Linked DNA regions of Homo sapiens: region 2 is linked to region 1. The links come from fine-mapping of genetic effects on gene expression. Tissue or cell type: whole blood. Region 1 holds a variant in brackets; the other region holds the start of a gene. All regions are shown on one strand. Distances are from middle to middle.

Region 1 (10,722 bases):
CAATGAGGATTAAATTTTACCACAGCCAGTGGGCATGCCACCCTTATGTAGGACACCTACATAAGGTATAAAACAAGGTATATATCTGAAAACACTATATTGCTCTGATTACATATTGTGGTTATAAAATAGTTTTAAATCTGGTTTAACATACAGAGAAAGATACAATTCAAACAATTAGTCCTATAAAGTAGGGGTTATTTATTTTTTTAAGTTTGCAGGGGAATTATGTCTATAAAATCCATTGAGAATCCCAATCTGGCCCAAGACTTCTCTTTGGCCAGCTGGAATAATAGCACCTAGGCAAAGCCTTGGCTATGAAAGCTTTCAGATTAATTTCAGTGTAAAAGGAGCTAGGAGAGGGGCCCTGACTGGGTGAGCTTCAGCATCCACCTGGTCCCTCAGAGATGGTTCCATGTCTGCCCCAAGGGATAAAGAGCCAGGAAGGCTCAAATCCCAGTCCTGAGGGCTCATGGAAGCATGATGAACTGGCGAGAGAAGTTTTACACACCTGACAGATCCAGTAAGTGGAATAGGTGGTCGTATTTTTACAAAGCCTTGTGTTTGATGACCATCAAGCTTTGTCCCTCAACAGAACATCTTTGATCTATAATTAATGTTTTAGGCACTCTTCACTGGACAGGCATAGAGTTCCCCAAAAATGCAGCCCATCCCCAAATGGATTCAGAGATCTCATCTCCACACACCTTAAATGTGTTCATGGAAGGACTTGATTTATAATGATGTAATCATAAAGGGAAGAAAATATTACTTTTTCTAATAATCAACAACTAAACACTGTAAAACATGAATCGCTGACTGAAATGATCACTCGGAAACATGAATGGTTTTTTATAGCCTAACTCCAGTTTCTGCTGGGTATTGATCTTGGGCAAATTCTGACCAGAACAAAATCTGATTAGCCATGCCAAGTAACCACAACCATGACCTAACTCCTAAGTGTCAGCCCTACTGAAGGGAGGGAGATTCTTGACTGCCCATCAATTAATGAAATAAACTATTCATTTTTTACAATCTGAACATATCAAAATCTGTAAAGTCACATATTTAACAGCTATTTATGATGACTCACCAAGCCAAGTGCAGAGGCACATCAAAAAGTACAATTACATTCATTACTTTTTGGAGCCCATTCATGTTAGGCTTGATTAAAAAGGTAGACTCAGTAGTCAGTCTCAGAATCCAGTGATCAGCATTCAAGCATATAGCTAACTCTAGTGTATTCCAAACCTACACTTCATGAAAAAATATACAACTGGCATTTACATGCCATTCAAGCTACAGGATAAATGTCAACTCTGAAAGACATCATTTATTTACAACTATATTGGGGGAAAAAAGAGGAGACCAAACCAAAATATTAACAAGGATTATACCTGGGCAATAGAAATATGGGTTACTTTTTTTTTTCTTTGACTTCTCTGTAGTTTCCCAATTTTCTTTAAAGAGTTTGTAGTGCTTTTACATATATGAGCGATGCCATAAACCCAACTTAAAATAAGATGGGTATATTTCTACTCTCTTGGTTTACATCCCATGCTGGCAAGCTAGAGTGATTTCTGTTCAAAAGTGAAGTTATGTTTTGTCCTCCTCAAATATACTCCATTCCACATTTCTTTCTCAGCTCATCTCTTTAAAACCAGTTTCTAGAAGCACATTCTGCTTCTCACATTAAAAAAAAAAAAAAAAAAAAAAAAAAAAAAGCCGGGCTTAAAATATATACCAAACCCCCTACCTTGGAGCATTTATACCATAAAGTAGATGAGACCAGAATCCATGCCTGATAAGGTCAATCTAAAATAAGAATGAGCTGATATTTGCCTTTAAAAAATTCTAGACTTGAAACCCAAAGGACTTAACAGCAGTTCTGTTCCATCAACCTCCTAGGTCTCAAAGAGATACATTAGAAATTCTACGAATATTTAATTCAAAGATCATTTTAAAAATATTTTTTAGGCCAGGCGTGACGGCTCATGCCTATTCCCAGCACTTTGGGAGGCCGAGGCGGGCGAATCTCTTGAGCCCAGAAGTTTGAGACCAGCCTGGGCAAAATGGTGAAACCCCATCTCTATGAAAAAATACAAAAATTAGCTGGGAGTGGAGGCACGCACCAGTACTCCCAGCTCCTGGGGAGGCTGAGGTGAGAGGATCACTTGAGCCTGGGAGACAGAGGCTACAGTGAGTCATGACTGCACCACTGCACTCCAGCCTGGGTAATAGAGCAAGACCCTGACTCAAAAACAAAACACTCTCTCTATATATATATAAAACTATAATAAACCAACATATACATTCATTCAACACCTAATTTTTCTACCTTGGAAATTACCAATTTGTTAATTTGCATTTTCACCACCTCATATATTATTAAGTAAATGCCATAAATTTAACCTTAAATAAATTTAATAACATACAATTTACTTCACACACTGGGGTTCCACAAAGATTTCTTACTACAAACAGCGTTCTGCTTCTCAACAACCTATATAATTTGATAACCACAGATGTAGCATAAAGTCATTCATTTTTAAACTCTAAATTCAGTTGCTTATTGGGGTTTTCACCTTGGATCTGGTACAAATTCTAACTAGAGTAAGAGTTCCTGGATGTGTCAAAAATCGTCACCTTCCCAACTCTTACATATGTAGGACAGTGACATGACTCCTGCCCACAGAAGAACACACCTGTCCTGCCCTCTCCCAACAATGGAATGTTACAAAGCAGGACACGCCTGAGTTAAAATGAGTATCCCTGAGGTTGATAATTCCCACCATGCACCTTGAAGATGGTTCTTGAATCTTTCATTCAGCCCGATGAAGAGAAGATTCATTGTAGCCAGTGTCACATTAGGTGAGAAAAATTCAGAAGGCAACAGATTTGCGCTGCTGCACCAGCGACCCAAACCAGCCCGTGAGTGCATAGCTACTGCCAGCACTTGAGAAAGGTGAGCCGTTGGATACTCTGGGAAACCGAGAAAGCACCTTCTACTGCAAGCGTGAAGAACATGATGCCCACAGAAAACACAACAGAAACAAGAAGTGAGACTCTTGAAGGTAATTTCCAGAATAGTACAGCATACTGGAGGCTTCAAATGAGAAAACGTTTCCAAAAACTTCATGTTTGCTCCAAATTTTGAACCAGAACCCCCACCACAATTGTGAGGAGCCCTTTGGTAAACTTACAGAGGTCAAGTCTTAAAGATGGTGGGTCTGTGGGAATGTTCATGCCATAATTCTTCTTCTCTGTAGATTTGAGGCTGCTGAGCTGGGGTGGGAGGGGGAAGAGGAAGTGATGTCAGTATTTAAAAATTGTGCTCAGTATTTAAAAATTGTGCTCATCTTCAAGAAGGGCCTAAAGTGGAGTGTAGGTTTTGGCAGAGAGGGTTTTACTCATTAGCTTCACGTTTATCTGAAGTCTCTCCATCTCTCCACAGAGGTAGTAGTAAAAGGATTCACAGATGCATGTAAAACCTGGGTTAGTTGAGAAATGCAAGTGAAAAACTAGCCTTTTTAGCCACAAGTCCTGTGTGTGTTTCATCTGTTTGGTTTTGTTTAAGGACAATTACCCCAAAGGAAAATCTCTGGCATCTTCCATCACAGAGTCAGAGGGTCTTGTCTCTCAGAGGGTCTGTCTGTCATCAGTAGAGTCCACTCCAAGGGCGCCTGGGAATGGTGGGGTCTGGAGCAGGCCAGCTTTCTCCAGGAAGAGATGCATTGTACAGGGCTGGATCCCCCAAGGGACTGCTCTGCCATGGCCATTAAGGACGCAGCCCAACAAGTCACTGCATCTGGAAGTGATGCTGAGAAAGATGCATCTAGTGTCCCTAAGCCCTCCATTTTCCATCTTTGGGAAAGGAATAGACACTTTTCCCCTTGTACAGTGGAATCCAGGTGGTCCACAGACACATTAGGGAGGAGGAGGGGACCTTTTTAAAAATTACACAAAATCCAGAAATCCTAAAGAAAAGATTAACAGATGTGACAACATGAAAGTTTAAAACCAGTATGGCACAAAAATATTAACATACTGAAAGACAAATGGGAAACTGCAGGGGGGCAGGGAATATTTGTACCATATGACAAAGTTTAAATCCCTACATACAAAGAACACTAAAGAAATTAAGAGCCCCAGCAAATAGATTTTTGAAAAGATAGCCCACACCCCAACTATTCGAACTCCCTTGGCTGTCTTCCTAGCAAAGGAAGCCCACTGCATGAGGGGCGATAAGCAGAGAAGCCAGCCACCATCTTGCCATCACGTGATCTTGACTGATGATTTCTTGTTGGCACACAGGAGGGACACATAGGGGACACCAATGAAGGCCCATTTCTCATTGGGCCAGAACTTGATGACAGGGCCTTGCTCAGGAATCTCTGAGGCAGCATCAAAGTAGGCAAAGCATACACAGCCCAGGTAGGCAGCAAGGCAGATGAGGATGTGCCTGCAGAGGGAGACAAGAGGTGAGAACCTGATGAGCATGAAGACTCCGCTGCCCTGAGTTTAGCCTGCTCCTTCTTCCGGTCTAACCCACGCACCTTGCTGACTGTAGTTGCAGCCCAGGGGCCTCTTCTAATTAGGAAAGGATGAAGATTACCAACAATCCCTGGAATAGCAGGATGATAAATCTTCAGCAATTTGGGACCCGTTTTAGAATGTTCTTAAATAGTCCTGCTGGATAATAGGAACAAATGTGCAAATAAATGCCTTTGGGCCTCAAACAAGAAGACTGAGGCCCAAGGATTTACAACAGAGATGCTAAGATGGAAGTAACTGAGCACATCTGATTAGAACCCACCTTCTCACTTTAACAACTGGTTACAGATATTTTATGTCCTTCATCAGGAATAATTTTATGTTGGTTAAACCACTTTTGCAGTTTAGTGGAAATTTTAAAAAATTTATCCTCACTGTACCTGTACAAAGTTTTAAATTTATATTAAACTTTATCGAACAATAGACCATTTAAAAGCATGTAATCCTTTTTTTTTTTTTTTTTTTTTAAATGAAGTCTCACCCTGTCATCCAGGCTGGAGTGCAATGGTGCAATCTCGGCTCACTGCAACCTCTGCCTCCTGGGTTCAAGCAATTCTCCTGCCTCAGCCTCCCAAGTAGCTGGGATTACAGGCACCCACCACCAGGCCCACCTAGCTAATTTTTGTATTTTTAGTAGAGAGGGAGGGGGTTTCACCATGTTGGCCAGGCTGGTCTTGAACTCCTGACCTCAGGTAATCCACCTGCCTCGGCCTCCCAAAGTGCTGGGATTACAGTCGTAAGCCACTGCGCCCAGCCCAAAGACAATATTTTTATAAACTTTGATGTTGGGGAGGAGGGGATCTTTTTAAAAATTACACAAAATCCAGAAATCCTATAGAAAAGATTAACAGATGTGACAATATGAAAGTTTAAAACCAGTATGGCACAAAAATATTAATATACTGAAAGACAAATGAGAAACTGCAGGGGGGCAGGGAATATTTGTACCATATGACAAAGTTTAAATCCCTACATACAAAGAACACTAAAGAAATTAATCAGGGTCAGGGTGGGAAGTAGGTGAGAATGGTATGAACCAGATTGGCCTCGTGTTGATAGTTATGGAATCTGGGTGTTGCCTATATGGGGGTTCAATGTATTATTCTCTGTACTTGTGAAAATGTTGCAAATATGCATAAGTGGCACATAGTTACGTAGCTAGTAATGACTGTCTACTATGTGCCAAGCCTAGATGCTGAATATAAACTGTTTTATTTTTTATTTTTTGGAGACGGGGTCTCACTCTGTTGCTCAGGCTAGAGTACAGTGGCACAATCTCAGCTCACTTCAATCTCC[G/A]CCTCCCAGGTTCAAACGATTCTCCTGCCTCAACCTCCCAAATAGCTGGGACTACATGCACATCCGGCTAATTTTTTGCATTTTTAGTAGAGACGGGGTTTCACCGTGTTAGCCAGGATGGTCTCGATCTCCTGACCTGGTGATCCACCTGCCTCGGCCTCCCAAAGTGCTGAGATTACGGGCGTGAGCCACCACGCCCGGCTGATATGAACTTTTAAAAATAGAAACACTCAATAGACCAGACAAAGAAAATTAAAAGGGGAAATACACATCACAAATTGACATTTGAAAAGATGCCCAACAAAAATACTAATTTTTTAAAAAGACATAATAATAAAAACAAAATATAATTTTTCTCAAACAGGTTAATGGAGATTTAAGAGTTTCCAGTATATGTGAAAGTGTGGGTAAAAAATGCTCTCTTACAGACTTCAGTAAACAGTGTTAATGGTACAGTTTCTCTGGATTTAGCAATATATAATATTAATTTAACATATGAAAATATTCAGAAACTCAAATCAATCTAGATGTTCATTATAAAGTGTTTGCAAAAGTGGAAAATTAGAAATAACCTCAAAGTCCGTTATCAGAGAGAGGTTGGTTAAATAAATTATAAAGTGTCCATATTATGAAGCATTTATTAGACACAAAAATGAAGATTATATATATGTATTGGTATGGAATGATGTCTGTATAGCATTAGATCTATGTAGTATAGATTTAAGTATTTGGTTAAAAAAAAAGTTTGGGCCAGGCTCAATGGCTCATGCCTGTAATCCCAGCACTTTGGGAGCCCAAGGCAGGTGGACCTGCTCGAGCCCAGGAGTTTCTGACTAGCCTGGGCAACATGGCAAAAATCCATCTCTACAAAAAAATTCAAAATAAATTAGCCTGGCACAGTGGCATGCACCTGTAGTCCCAGCTCCCTGCAGGGGGTGAGGTGGGAGAATCACTTTCAGTCCGGGAGGCAGAGATTGCAGTGAGCCAAGATCACCCCACTGCACTCCAGCCTGGGCAACAGAGTGAGACTTTGTCTCAAAAAAAAAAAAAAAAAAAAGTTTGCATCGTGTATAGAATGATGCTATTTTTTTTAAAAGTAGACATATATATGTGTGCGTGTGTGTGTACATATAAAATCTCAATGGATATACATCAGACTGTTAATAATTATGTTTCTTTGGGGGATAGAATTATGAGAGCCATTCTTTCTATACTTCTATGTTGTTTAAATTTGTTATAAAAAATATGTCATTTTATAACTGGAAAGAAAATATGGTTCAACTTTGAAAAACAAAGCAGAAATATACCAAATTCAGAAACACATTAAGTTTGAGTCAAAATTATTACATAGTTTAAATTTCGAATTTGACTTAAATCATGTGTGACAGGGGACTTAGATAAAAATGACCATCTTGAATGAGGTCATATTTACCTAGTGTATACATTTCTCAAAATTCACAATATACACTTAAAATCTGTACATTTTGTTATCTGGAAATTATAACCCAACAAATATATAAACTATATAAATTCACTAGTATTAGTTGAGTTGAATCTAAAAAATATCGAGCAATGGATCCTAAGACGGTAAACTCCAACTTGTGCTGTTTGAATTTTGTCTTTTACAAACACTCCTTGAAGTCCCCAAGTCTTAAATTTAGAGTAGGGTGGGTCTCATAGCAAATATATCAAAGTTCACATGAGCAAGGGAACTTAAGTGAATTCTATCAAATTGTATATTTTTAGCCTATCTCTGGATAGAAGTCAACCTTTTCCTGAATCTAGATCTAACAAAGTTTTTCCATTTCTTCACCACTAGAATTCCTCTCTGGGTTCCTCCTACCTATAGGGGATAACCTACAGCAGATTTCTCCTCCTTGTGATCTTTTGCAATCAGAAGTCCTGGAGGACAGAAAGGAAAGATCACTCTGGGTTTGAGGCTGAAGCAGTTCCTAGGAAGAAAGCCACTCCAATTTCCCCCAGCTTTCTCAGAATCGGATTCTGCATGTATTTTGTAACCCGCTTTTTTTTTTTTAACTTAGTGTATCCTGAGCATTCCAAAGTATAGACGCTCCAATGTGCTATTACTGAACTCCAAGGTTGTTTTCTACAGAAACAGGTGGGTGACATTAAACAATTCACTTTAGCTCTCTGGTCTTCTGTCCCCACTTATAGAAATAATGGAAGAGAATGTCTCTAAATGGCCAGTGCGGCCCCTCCTTGCACTTGGTCTCTCAGGCCCTAAAGGTGGGGTTCCCACTGAGGACCCTCCCAGCCCTCACATCACCTCTTTCCCCAGCTTTCCCCTACCTCTCCCCTCCCCCAACACCTAGCTAGAGCTCAGGTTACAGGTTCAGTTCTCAAGCTCCTTTAGGCTTTAATAATGGAGTTAGAGGTAAAAGACTGCAGACCTAAGCATGACAATCAGGCCTTTCGTTCCGGCTAAGCCTGCTCCCTGGAGTCAATTCAGCTTTTTACAAAGTGTGCTTTCAGTGGCTTCTGAACCATCTGACCGTCCACCTGAGGAGAGAAGCAAGCCAGCAACCCACAGGACACCTGTGCACCACTTGCAGGGTGAACAGAGCCCAACAGCAAGTGCAAACACACCTGTCCCCGGCCACCTCCCCATTAGCAGGGGCTTACCACATGCAGTGCAGGTAGGGGAAGTTGAAGGATGACAGCAGCTCGCAGAAAGCTCGGTCACTGATCCAGCAGAACAGGGCCAGGGTCCACCAGAGGCCCGAGAAGAGGCCCAGCTTAAACACACGCATGTTGTCACACCTGCACGGGGGTCCAGAGAGTCACTCATCGTCAGACCTTGTCTCCACCTCCTTGCTGGCCACCTTTCCTGTGTCTCCTTCGCTGGTTCCTCTCATGCCTACAACCCCAAGACACTGAAGTTCTTACCCAACACACAGTCACTCCACAGTCTCATGGATGTAAATACCATATGTACACAGATGGCTCACAGACACCCTTCCCACCCAGGCTTCTCTCCTGACTCCAGACTCATACACCCAACTACATTTTTGACACGAGCACCCTAATATGGATCTAAATTTAACAAGTCCATAACCTATTCTTCTCCCAATCTTTCTCCTTCTCACATAGCCCACATCTAGTCCATCAGCTCTCCCTTCAAAATATCTCAAACCTGACCTCTTTCCACCACCTCCATCTAGATCCATGCTACCGCCATCTCATCAGAGTCTCCTTCCACCCTTGCCCCTACAGCCAATTTAACAGCCTCCAGCATCTTCCTGTTTAACCAGAGGGAAAGCCAAAGTATTCACAGTGGCCACAAGGCCCCGGATGCATGATCTTCCCTTTTCCCCTTCACCTCCTCTCGTGTGTACTCTTCCCTCTCACTGCCCATACTCAAGCCACTGCAGGATTTGTGCTGTTCCACAAATATCCCAAGCATGCTCCTGCAAGACCATAGCACTCACTGTGCCCTCTTGCCTGGAATGCTCTTCCCTCACATGTAAATCTTTGCTCAAATGTCACTCAGTAAGCCTTTTCCTGATGCTATTTTTAACAATTTCAACACCTGTCTCCACCTCCCAGGTGACTCTCCCTAAGGCCTCCTTCCCTCCTTTAATTTTCTAGGTAGTGATTATAACCTCCCTGACACCCTCTGTGTTTCACTTATGTGTTTCCAGTGTGTGTTTATCCACTGACATGGAATCTGTTTACTGCTGTATCCCAGCACCTGGAAATGTGCCAGACACAGAAGGCACTCAACATGTGTTGAATGAAGGAATAACTTCTTACACACACTGGGACAAAATGGTTTTCTGAAAAAAATGCTAACAGCTCAATGAAAATTTCAATTGCCGTCTTCTTTCCTTGACAAAGACTTGCTCATAAAGTGGGTGAGTTCTACCCCTGGGGACGAACACCTGGGGGCAGCTGGTGGCTGAGCGTCCTTCTTCCCGGAGGGGACCACTCCTGGGTCAGTCAAGATCTCCTATGGGACCCAGAATACAACACGACATCTGCAATTGAGAAGAAGCTTAATTCCTCTTTGTTGAACCCACAGACAGGTGTTAAAAGCCTGACTGGCTAGTGCCCTTCCCAGATGCCTTTCACAAACATCAGCGAAAGCATCAATAAAAGTGGGACAGGTTCAGAAAGACCTGTTCAAAAACAAATCAAAATACTCTTGTAGGAAGGCTAAATACATCCCTTGAAAAGTTTTTAGAAAGAATAGAGGCCGATGACATGGGGAGACTTACATTCCCAGTTACTAAAACAAAGAGATAACAATTTCCATTTCTCGCTTTCGATTACCACTCTCTACCTTGAATGCCTCGCCTTTGGGCTGGTTCCCTCTCAAAAAGAGCTCATCTCTCACCTTGACCCACCCTCTCCTTCTCTCCAGGGCTCAGTCTCCAGGCTTCTTCCCACACACAATGCCAGATACTATAGGTCTCCCCTCAGTGCAAGCTCGTCCACAACCGTGGCCCACAGGCTGCATGCCGACCAGGATGGTTTCGAATGAGGCCCAACACAAATTTGTAAACTTTCTTAAAACATTATGAGATTTTATGCCGGGCGCGGTGGCTCAAGCCTGTAATTCCAGCACTTTGGGAGGCCGAGGCGGGCGGACCAGAGGTCAGGAGATCGAGACCATCCTGGCTAATCCGGTGAAACCTCGTCTCTACTAAAAATACAAAAAAATTAGTCGGGCGTGGTGGCGGGCGCCTGTAGTCCCAGCTACTCGGGAGGCTGAGGCAGGAGAATGGCGTGAACCCGGGAGGCGGAGCTTGCAGTGAGCCGAGATCGCGCCACTGCACTCCAGCCCAGGGGACAGAGCAAGACTCCGTCTCAAAAAAAAAAAACCATTATGAGATTTTTTTTTTTTGCGAC
Region 2 (10,722 bases), 40 kb after region 1:
AACAAATTAGTGGGAGACTTTCCCCAAGAGAAAAAGATGAAGGAACACCAAAAGAAATACAAAAAAGCAAATCAGTCATGGTTTAAAAATGGACTCATGGATCCATCTCTACTGAGATGTATCCCTCAAAATTGTATTGGTCGCTGAAATTGTAGAATAGTGCACTCAAGGGCTACAATTTTTTTTTTTTTTTTTGAGGCGGAGTCTCGCTCTGTCAGCCAGGTTGGAGTGCAGTGGCGCGATCTTGGCTCACTGCATGCTCCGCCTCTCAAGGAGTACATTTTAAAGCCTATTGTTAGATTATAGCATGCTCACAGCTCACTGCAGCCTTGATCTCAGCCTCCTGAGTAACTGGGACCACAGGCATGTGCCATCATGTCCAGCTAATTTTCACATTTTTTGTAGAGACAGGGTAGGGTTTTGCCATGTGGCTCAGGCTGGTCTCAAGTGATCTGCCAGCCTCAGCCTGGGCTCAAGTGATCTGCCAGCCTCAGCCTCCTAAAGTACTAGGATTAGAGGTGTGAGCCACTGCGCCTAGCCCACAATTTTTAAAATGTATTATTTCCTTAGAAAGTTCTTCATTCTATGAATTTCCACATAACATTTGCTACAAAATAATCTCATGAACATACTGCAGTCTCATCCTGATGCATCTGAATGTGCACTTTCCAGACAGAGGGTAAATAAAGACAAAACAACAGGCTGTACATATTCTGGACAGCAGGTTCATAAACAGCTGAGGACTTTTACCCTGGCTGAGTGGATTGTCTGTCCATCTTAATTGTGTGCTGATTCCTAACTACCCATTCCATTGTTTTACTTCTGCCCCTGGGATGACCAACTGTCGTGGTTTGCTTGGGACTGAGGGGGCTTCCCAAGGCATGGGACGTTCAGTTTTAAAATCAGAAAAGTCTCAGGCAAAAACCCAGGACAAGTTTGGTCACTCTATTCAGAAGCCTTCTTGCAAAACCACCACCCTATCCTCACAGTACATCAATCCCATGCACAGTACTAAAAACACCCTCAGCGGCTTGTACACACCTCTATCATAGCCCTCACCACCCATATGACTATTTACAGAGCTGGTCTCTGGAATAAGCACACAGTTGTTGCCCAGCAAATGCTCAGATTGATGGATCGACCGATAGATTCAGCCTGAAGAGAGCGGGACTTAGGACTTGGCATATAACGAGAGCTCTATTTATCTTGATGACTGGGGACAGAGCAGGAAGTGACAGATCATGAGCTGATTTTATGCATGTATTTTGCTTCAAGATTCTTTTCAGCGATCAGTTGACTTTCTTCTGTCCTCAAGTCCCTGCTGAGCAACAGAGTCCCCAAAGGCCAAGCTCAGGTAAAAGGCAGACCCGGCTTTTCTCCAAAGTGGCTAGGTCTATGTGACTGGGGCCTTAAATATTTTCTTTTTTTTTTTTTTTTCCTTAAGATGGAATCTTGCTCTGTCACCCAGGCTGGAATGCAGTGGCCTCATCTTGGCTCACTGCAACCTCCACCTCCCAGGTTCAAGCAATTCTCCTGCCTCAGCCTCCCTAGTAGCTGGGACTACAGGCACACACCACCACACTTGGCTAGTTTTTTGTATTTTTGGTAAAGATGGGGTTTCGCCGTGTTGGCCAGGCTGGTCTCAAACTCCTGACCTCAAGTGATCCTCCCACTTCAGCCTCCCAAAGTGCTGGGATTACAGGCGTGAGCCACCGCGCCCAGCCAGGGGGTCTTAAATCTTAAAACATAAAAAGGAACTCAATTAATAAAATTTGTATATAGAAGAAACAGTATAAAATGTGCACAAGTAAAAGGCTGTGAAAGGAAATTACATGTTCATGGAAGAGATATTAGGCTTGGCTGAAGCAAAGGATGATACAATTTGAGGCAACAGAAATTTGCAGAGGCCAAAGCAAAATGTTTTGTATGCCCAAACATTGTCAGTGGAAGTCAAATCAGTGCACTCTCTTTAGTGTGCCATTTCACAATAATTATCAGCATTTAAACTGAATATCCTCCTTGACACAGCAATCCCCATCTAAGATTAGTGCTTGCGAAAGTACATCCAGATGCATGAATGAGGATATTCACTGAATCACTGTTCAAAAACCAAAATGAAAACAATAAAACAGAGAGAAACTATATGAAATGTCCATCAATAAGGATTGATTAGATAAATAAATTATGATCAATCCATTAAAGGGAGTACTGTATAAACATTATAAACAGGAAGAGAGCACTATATGAGCTGATATGGAAATATCTCCAAGACATATTAAGTGAAAAACACAAGGTACATAAGAGTTTACACAGTACCATCTTGGAAAAAAACTTCAAGTATTCGTGATTACGCCATACATGCTGGTTTTTTTTTTTTTTTTTTTGAGACAGAATCTTGCTCTGTTGCCCAGGCTAGAGTGTGCAGTGGCGCGATCTCAGCTTACTGCAACCTTCACCTCCCAGGTTCAAGCTATTCTTCTGCCTCAGCCTCCTGAGTAGCGGGGACTTACAGGCACGCACCACCACAACCAGCTAAATTTTTGTATTTTTAGTAGAGATGAGGTTTCACCATGTTGGCCAGGTTGGTCTCAAACTCCTGACCTCAAATGATCTGCCTGCCTCAGCCTCCCAAAGTGCTGAGATTACAGGCATGAGCCACTGCCCCCAGCCTTATACATGCGTATTTTATATGCACACAGATACATGTGCTTTTTATATGCCTAGAAAATATCTAGAAAGATACAGAAGGTTATTTTTCACTCTACAACTTACATACTCTAAATTTTTTACCATGATCATATTACTTTTACAATAAACAGTAATTTTACAAACTACTTTAAATAAACTTTTTTCCTATCAAAAAGTATGAGTTTTATCCTAGAGATAAAATGATCCCAAGACAGGAGTTTTAAGTTATGGAATGACTAAATAATAAATATCTATTCTATGCCAAATAGATAAATCTAAGTTAGTTACAGTGGCACTTATAGCTTCAAGATAACTCTCTTGGTAGAGTCAAATGGACCAAGTTCTGACTTCAGCTGTGCTATGCTCTTGACCACAGCAAGTTACATAAACTCTCTAGGCCCCAATTTCCATCTTTATCAAATGGATATAATAAATAGCACCCATTGTCTAGAATGAGTATACAGTACCCAGCAGAGCTTCAACACATAGCAATTAAGTAATGGTAGACAGTAGTATCTGAAGGTGTAGTAGTGATGTGCTACCCCTAAGACCCATTAAGAAGGTTCTAGATCCCTCTCCCGGTCTTCTCCTGATTTAACATTGTCAATTCCTCCAACTTTTTCTCAAAACTGGTAATGATTATGAGTTTCCTATAAACTGGGTAATTAGACCTGTTGCCTTATTATGAGGATTTAAGACGATATTTATCACCACATAACAGTCTACTGTCTTTCTCAACACAGGAGTAAGATAAGCATGGGAATGTCCTGTGATAAGCATCAAAATATAAGTAGTACGTAAGAACACAGGGGAAGAAGGCCGGGCATGGTGACTCACGCCTGTAATCCCAGCACTTTGGGAGGATCGCTTGAACCTGGAGGTGGAGGTCGCAGTGAGCCAAGATCGCACCACAGCACTCAAGCCTGGAACAGAGCATGATCATCTCAAAAAAAAATTTTTTTAAATAGCAACAGAGGGGAAGAAACGTTTTTTGCTAAATTCTTTGGACCTACACTCAACAAAGTTAGGCAATGACCTTATTCTCTGACACCTTACGCTCTCTGCTTTGCCAGAGCAAATTTTGTGGTTTATGAGTATTCCAAGGAATAAAGTTTGTCAGATGGGCCAGCTGGGCTCATCAGCCAGACAATGCAGCTGAAGATCAACAGTTAGTTTCTGAAAAAGACTTTAGCACTCACTACATAGAGTAACGGCTCCAATGGGACTAGATTAAAAGTAAAGACAAACTCTCCCTTTCATCCAGCCCTATGACACTTTTCAAGACAGACTCAGAGAAGCCATACACTAGCTTTTTTGGCCAAAATAACCAAGGTTGACCCTCTCTGTAGACCCCAGGCTGCACAGAGAATAATCTTGCTAAGTGTGTGAGAACCTGTCATCAAGCTGTCTTTTCTTCTTGAACTCTGGTGAAATCCTTACTCTTTCACTATATTCTTTATTTACAAAAGGACAGCTTGTGTTACCACTGGTGTTTCTCCTTATTGAAAGTACCCAGAACTACTCCAGCCCATCCTCTGTGTGCAACTATTTACCCCTGACAGCATGCTCTGGGAGGTTATGCAATACATAAGTCATGGCCACTTCCACTGTCTTTCACAGTATCTGTGGTCAGCAGAGGGCCAGGTTTTCTTTGAGACCCTGTTGCCCAGGCTGGAGTGGAGTGGCGCGATCTCAGTTCATTGCAGCCTTCAACTCCCAGGCTCAGGTGATCCTCCCACCTCAGCTTCCCAAGTAGCTGGGACGACAAGTGTGTGCCACATGTCCAGCTAATTTTTGTATTTTTTTGTAGAGATGAGGTTTCGCCATGTTGCCCAGGTTGGTCTCGAACTCCTGGATTCAAGCGATCCACCTGCCTTGGCCTCCCAAAGTGCTAGGAATACAGGTGTGAGCCACAACGCCCAGCCTTAGGTTTTCTTAAGGAACCAACCTAATCATAAAAAAAGGAGCAGGAGTGTTTGTGTGGAAGCCAGCCATGGATTTCAGCACTGAGGGAAGGAAGGGCCCAGACTTCTGGATTGTGGCCCCAGCCATGCCAGAAATGTGAGCATGACAGCTCCCTCCTCAAGAGCCCAGTTTTCTCATCAGATGAATAAAAGGACAGGGACTAGATCATCTGAGATTCCTGCAGGCAGTAAGCACCTGACTCCTGCTGAAGACATTCTCTCTAGCAAATCCAAAAGGAAAAGTCCTAAACAACAACCTCAAATTCACAATGACCCAAACCAGGAGTTCCTGTTTCCCTTGTTTGGGCGGTGAAAAGATAAGCCACAGAAATGACCACGCAAAGTCTCACATTCTGTACCAGGATTCTGAGCCATGGACATACACAAAATAAGAGGCATTTCCTCTCCCAGCTGCAACCCTTCCCTACCACAAGAACTAAAATCACACAGGATTCTGCAATGGGGAAGTTTCTGCTCACCCTTATCTAGGGACCTAGGCAAATCCAAAACCCGCACATTATCACTCCCAAACTTTCCTTTCATCCCTCAGACTTCAGAACTGGAGAAAGCACAGTCCTGGGGGAGTTGAATTAGCGGCTTGCACAAGACAGGACACTAAAGGCAAGAAAAAAAAACAAGTAGTAATTAACTTGATTCTGACCAAAAATAACTCGACCATTATAGGCATGTTCTTGGGGGTGGGGCAAGTCTGCCTGGTGGGAGTGACCCCAGCCGCGGGGACCTGCGGGGGGCGTGCTCTTCCCAGCACTCCGAGAGCAGGTATTCAGGGCAAAAAAGCACAATGCGACCCAAGTGCGTCACGCCACAGAGATCCCAGGGGAGGAAGAGACTTGTCCCGGCAGGTTCACCGCCCCCAGCTGACCCAAACAAGGAGAATGGGCTGACACAGACCCCTGGTTCCTGGACGCGTGGGGGCCAAACAAGACAATAGGACCATCACAAAACAAATGACAGCAGGAGGAAGATGAGCCCAGCTGTCGGGAATGGGGACAGGAGAGGAGGACAGATGGAGAACTGAAAGGAGCGCGCCGAGGAGGGGGTGTGGACTGACTCAGCCCCTGGAGAGAATGCCCCCAGATGCGCGCAGAGACCCACGTCCAGCTTCCAGACGCTGCGGCGCGGGAACAGCCCCCTCCCGCTGGCCCGCCTGCCTTCCCCGCTCCCGCGCCCCGCACCGTGTTGTAGAACTCGGCGATAGCAGGCACGATGGTGTAGTTGTCCTCGCACCAGTCCACCTCCGAGCTACCAGCCTGCAGCTGGTCCCACCAGTGCGGGGCGCCCATGGCCACTCCGGGGCATTGGAGCAGCTGCTCGCGCAGCTGAGAAGAGCCCAGAGCTGCTGCGGAGGCAAAACGCGGCGACAGCCAGCGGCGAAAGCGGCTTTATGAAGCACCGGGTAACCGCCGGATGTGCGCCTCCCAACTGGCCTCCCGCGCTCCGCCCCGCCTCGCCTCGCCTGCGGGAGGTTACTCGTTCGCAGACCCTCCCCGGCCCCTCCCCCTGGAAGCCACGCCCACCGTGGGGCGGGACCCGCGTGGAGGAGGGGTCCAGGGTGGGGCGCCTGGAGGCGGAGACCGGGCTCCAGACTCTTCCAGACTACCCAGCACCCGGCAGGTGGCCAGGGCCTCGATGGTGCTACCCACGCCTGCCCACGCCCATCTCCTGGCTCAGACTCGCAGCCTCCCCCGATTGAAGGAGCGCCAGAACTCTCCCTGGAAAAAAATTTAAAATAAAAAGAAACCCGGGAGGACCTGGACCTCTCTGGACCCAGAGTTTGCAGCGATTTTGCTGCGTCCGGCGTTGGACGCCAGTGCTTACACCAGAGAAGTGCCCTCAGTCCCTCCGAGGCCGGACGCCACTCGCTGCGGTCACTGTGGCAGGAAGACCTTCCCGGCTGCTGGAGCAGGTTGGGCCGCCCAGTCCCCGGGGGAGCACTTCTATTTAGAGTACGTTCCTGCCCTCCCTCCCCTTGGCTCCAGCGTTAAGGCTTAATCTAGCCTTCGATATGGGGACTTAGGCAAAGGGTCAAACGTCAGCCATCCCAAACTGCAGAGGATGTAGTGTGGCAGTTATGACATCTCCAAGATATCGAGGTTCAAGAGGTGATAGATAACATACACATGCCAGGTGCTGTCTGAAGAGTTTCCATGTATCACTCATTTAGTGTGCCCAGCAGAGACCCTGTGAGGGGCTTCTATTAGCAAGTGACAGAGCTGGAAATTCAATTCAGGCAAGATGTCCTCAGATCCAGTCATAACTACCTTCTTTTGCTTCTGTAACTGTTCTGCGGTTTGTAAATGAAAGCCAATCTGGTTCCCAGGATCCCTAGAGGAAAGCCACCCTCTGTGTGTATGTGGTGGCTCCCGTTCTCCTTCCTTGAAAGGTTGTAGGATTCTAGGTCAGGACAGCGGCAGAAGAGGCCCTGGGCAGCAGCCCATTGGTGACTGTCATTAGGACGTCTTGCTCGGACCCGCAGGGTATCCTAAAGGCCAGCAACTCCCCAGGGTCTGCCCTCTCTCTGGGCCTGACTGCCCAGCAGGACCCTGGGTGGTGCTTCAGTGTCCTCTGCACCAAGTGTTTGTCTGCCCACCAGTACCCACACAGCCATGTGCAAGTCCCCAGAGATCTCCATCACTGACAAAAACTGCAAGCCCCGCCGCCTCTCCTAGTCTCTAGAAAATCCAGGTTTGTCCCCCAGGGGCCAAACCACACTCCTCCTTTCATCTTTGTCCCAACCTCTATCCCTTCCTCCTGCTTTACGGGCAATTCCACTGCCCTCCAGAACCCAAGTAGAAGATACACTCTTACCTTCCCCTAGGGTTGATTTACCCAGACCTACAGGATACCCGGAGTGAGCTGGCCACCTAAGAAAGGCGGTTGAGGGCCGGGCGCGGTGGCTCATGCCTGTAATCCCAGCACTTTGGGAGGCCGAGGCAGGCGGATCACGAGGTCAGGAGATGGAGACCATCCTGGCTAACATGGTGAAACCCCGTCTCTACTTAAAAAAAGAATACAAAAAATTACCCGGGCGTCGTGGCGGGCGCCTGTAGTCCCAGCTACGCAGGAGGCTGAGGCAGGAGAATTGCGTGAACCCGGGAAGCGGAGCTTGCAGTGAGCCGAGATCGCGCCACTGCACTCCAGCCTGGGTGACAGAGCGAGATTCCATCTCAAAAACGAAGGGCGGTTGGGGTGGATGTTTCCCACAGCCACAGAAGAAAGATACATCAGTTAATTTCTGTGTCTCAAAATGCTACACCAACTGTTCAGCAATAGAATTTTCCCTGTAGTCAATATTTTACTTCTTCCAACAACAGTTTACTTGGAAATATATCCATATTCATCAAAATATAATGGTATTTTTAAAAAACCATTATTTTATATGCCAGAGATTCTCAAAGTGTGGTTCCTCCCTTTCTTTTCATTTTCATTCTCTTACCAGTGTACATTGGAACTTCCCAGAGGATACATGATGTGTGATGTCATTATCTCTCCGACAGCTAATGGAATATGTGCTTGTGATTCTTTGGTATTAAAAGTCTGTTTAAATTTCTAATGCGGTAACTATTGATGTTACCATATAAACCACAAGTTCTCTGGTGTTCTCAATATTTTTTAAGAGTGTAAAGGGGTCCTCAGACTAAAAAGATTGAAAGTTGCTGTTAAAAAGATGTTCCTGGCCGGATGCAGTGGCTCATGCCTGTAATCCCAGCACTTTGGGAGGCCAAAGCAGGCAGCTCTTCTGAGGTCTGGAGTTCGGGACCAGCCTGGTGAACTTGGCAAAACCCCGTCTCTATTAAAATACAAAAATTAGCAGGGCATGATGGTGGGCACCTCCAGCTATGCGGGAGGCTGAGGCAGAAGAATCGCTTGAACCCAGGGGGCAGAGGTTGCAGTGAGCCAAGATCGCGCCGCTGCACTCCAGCTTGGGCAACAGAGCGAGACTCCATCTCAAAAAAAAAAAAAAAAAAAAGAAATATTTCCAATTAAACTATTTGTAATACTTTTTTATCATTTAGAATTTTTAGTGAACAAGCACAGACTTAGACTTACATTGTTATCATACATCTCTTGTGCATACCTAAGAAGGAAGGTATAAGCAAAAATAAATTCATTAAAGAATTCCTGTAATTTCTTTACATTCAGAATCTCTGTTCTTCTGAGTCATTTTTCAGCTTATAGTCATTGATGTCTGTGTCATTCATATAGAAATGTCCTCTGTGTCCTTAATTACTATGTGCTAATAATGCAGCATTTCTTAAAACTATTCCACTACTGTTTTCTTGCAAACTACTGACACCTGTTTTACAAATTTTGATGCTGGGACTCTCCTGATCTTACCTGAAGGTGTCAGTGGAAGGTTTCCAGACAACAGGCAGCATGTTTCTTTTCCAGATGGTCCTTATATAATCTGTTGAGAGAAACATGGAGATTACAGTTGCCAAGTCATCCCACCAGGAATAACCACCAAGTCTGTACATATGCAGGCAGTGACACCACATCACAACCATGACCTAGCCAACCATAATCATAAAATGCCATTCTTGGTAAAATGCATCAGGATTTCAGAGATTTAACAACGCAAAACAATGTGAGTTTTAGCACCAGTGAAATATTAAATTTGCTGAATGTAATTCATCCTTCTTTCCAAGTCTTGCTAAGGGAATGATGGGAGTTTTTCATCCTCCACAGTAACTCTTATTGTCAGTGACAATTGTAGTTCAAAATCAGTCAGCCACATTGGTTCCTTCTAATTACAACTGCACAGAAACCGTACTTGAGTCACACTGTCTCTAAAATTTTGTTTTCATAGCTCTCCCCATTGTTAACATTGTTAACTTTTTTTTTTTTTTTTGAGACAGGGTAACCCTCTGTTACCCTGGTTGGTGTGCAATGGTGCAATTTCAGCTCACTGCAACCTTGACCCCCCCACCCCAGACTCAAGCGACCCTCCCACCTCAGCCTCATGAGTAGCTAGGACCACAAGGGTGCACCACAATGCCCAGCTAAATGTTGTATGTTTTGTAGAGACAAGGTTTCATCATGTTGCCCAGGCTGGTCTCAAACTCCCAGGTTCAAGTGATCCCTTGAGCCTCCCAAAGTGCTAGGATTATAGGAGTGAGCCATTGCATCCAGCCAACATTTTTAAAATAAATACAACATTGGTAATTTAACAAGAGGGCCTATCAGGAGGTTATAAATTTTAAAATTGATTTATATTAATTGCATGATGCCTTAGAAACTACTGCTAGTGGTTGAATACAAAATTCTGATGTCTACTCTAAACTAAGTTTGTTGAGGGAAGGATGCAGTGACAGCAAGGAACAGAACTACTGAGTTCCAACTATTTGGCTTACGATGCTTTTGGCCTACATGACTCAGTGATACAGATCCACAAGGGAGCAAGTTTGAAGGAACAGCCCTTGCAAGGAATTCAGAATGACAGCACCTTCTATTTTTACATAGTGTATAACAATGTTTATTTGGTATAAGTAAATATCTGATAGTAAATATCCAGTTCAACTGGTTCCACAAGTGGAAATTATCAAGTCACAAAGTCTTCCCTTGGGTAAAAAATGCAGGCACCTGTGTAAATGAAGCAAGAAGTGCCTGATCAAGGATGAAGTTTTCTGTATCTTCCTGTTTGACTAGAGTTTTTCACTGTGGTCCTGCTTGTGGCCCATTGTTAAGCCAGTGGTTAAGGCCAGCCCAGCAGCAGCAGCATCCCCTGGGAATCTTTTACGAATGTGAGTTCCAGTCCCCACCCTAGAACTATTGGATCAGAAACTCTGGATAGAGCCCAGCAACCTTTGGCTTCATAAGCCCTCAGGTGATTCTGACTCATGCTCAGGCTCATGATGAGGAAACCAGGGGCTCTGAGTCTGCCCTGGACCCCTTCAACTCAGAGGAAAACAGAAGAAGCCAGCAAGACTGTGCTTGTTTTGCTAAAATCTGAGGTCGTTTTCAGGCTCAGACTTGTAGATGAGAGTTGTAGGAAGTAGGTCCTCACTAGGGAAACACTGCTGCAGCCACTGCAGAAGGTGCTTGTGTT

The links. PIP is the estimated chance that this variant, and not a neighbour inherited with it, causes the effect.
Region 2: ACER2 starts here. The variant in region 1 is fine-mapped to the expression of ACER2 in whole blood (INTERVAL, PIP above 0.99).

The regions. Positions count from the first base shown.
Region 1 is chr9:19,444,190-19,454,911 of GRCh38, reverse strand. It overlaps ACER2 (alkaline ceramidase 2), which reads right to left. Exons shown (of 6, transcript NM_001010887.3): 5 at 8,494-8,631; 6 at 2,407-4,462. The coding sequence ends at 4,276. Among named protein-coding and RNA genes, the nearest start is that of MAP1LC3BP1, 14 kb to the left of the region's middle. RefSeq lists enhancers at 2,927-3,146, 7,969-8,715, 7,654-8,853. The variant G/A (reference allele first, on the strand shown) is at 5,851.
Region 2 is chr9:19,404,319-19,415,040 of GRCh38, reverse strand. It overlaps ACER2 (alkaline ceramidase 2), which reads right to left and starts at 6,032. Exons shown (of 6, transcript NM_001010887.3): 1 at 5,849-6,032. The coding sequence starts at 5,956. RefSeq lists enhancers at 5,787-5,936, 5,349-6,204, 6,205-7,062 and a silencer at 6,037-6,326.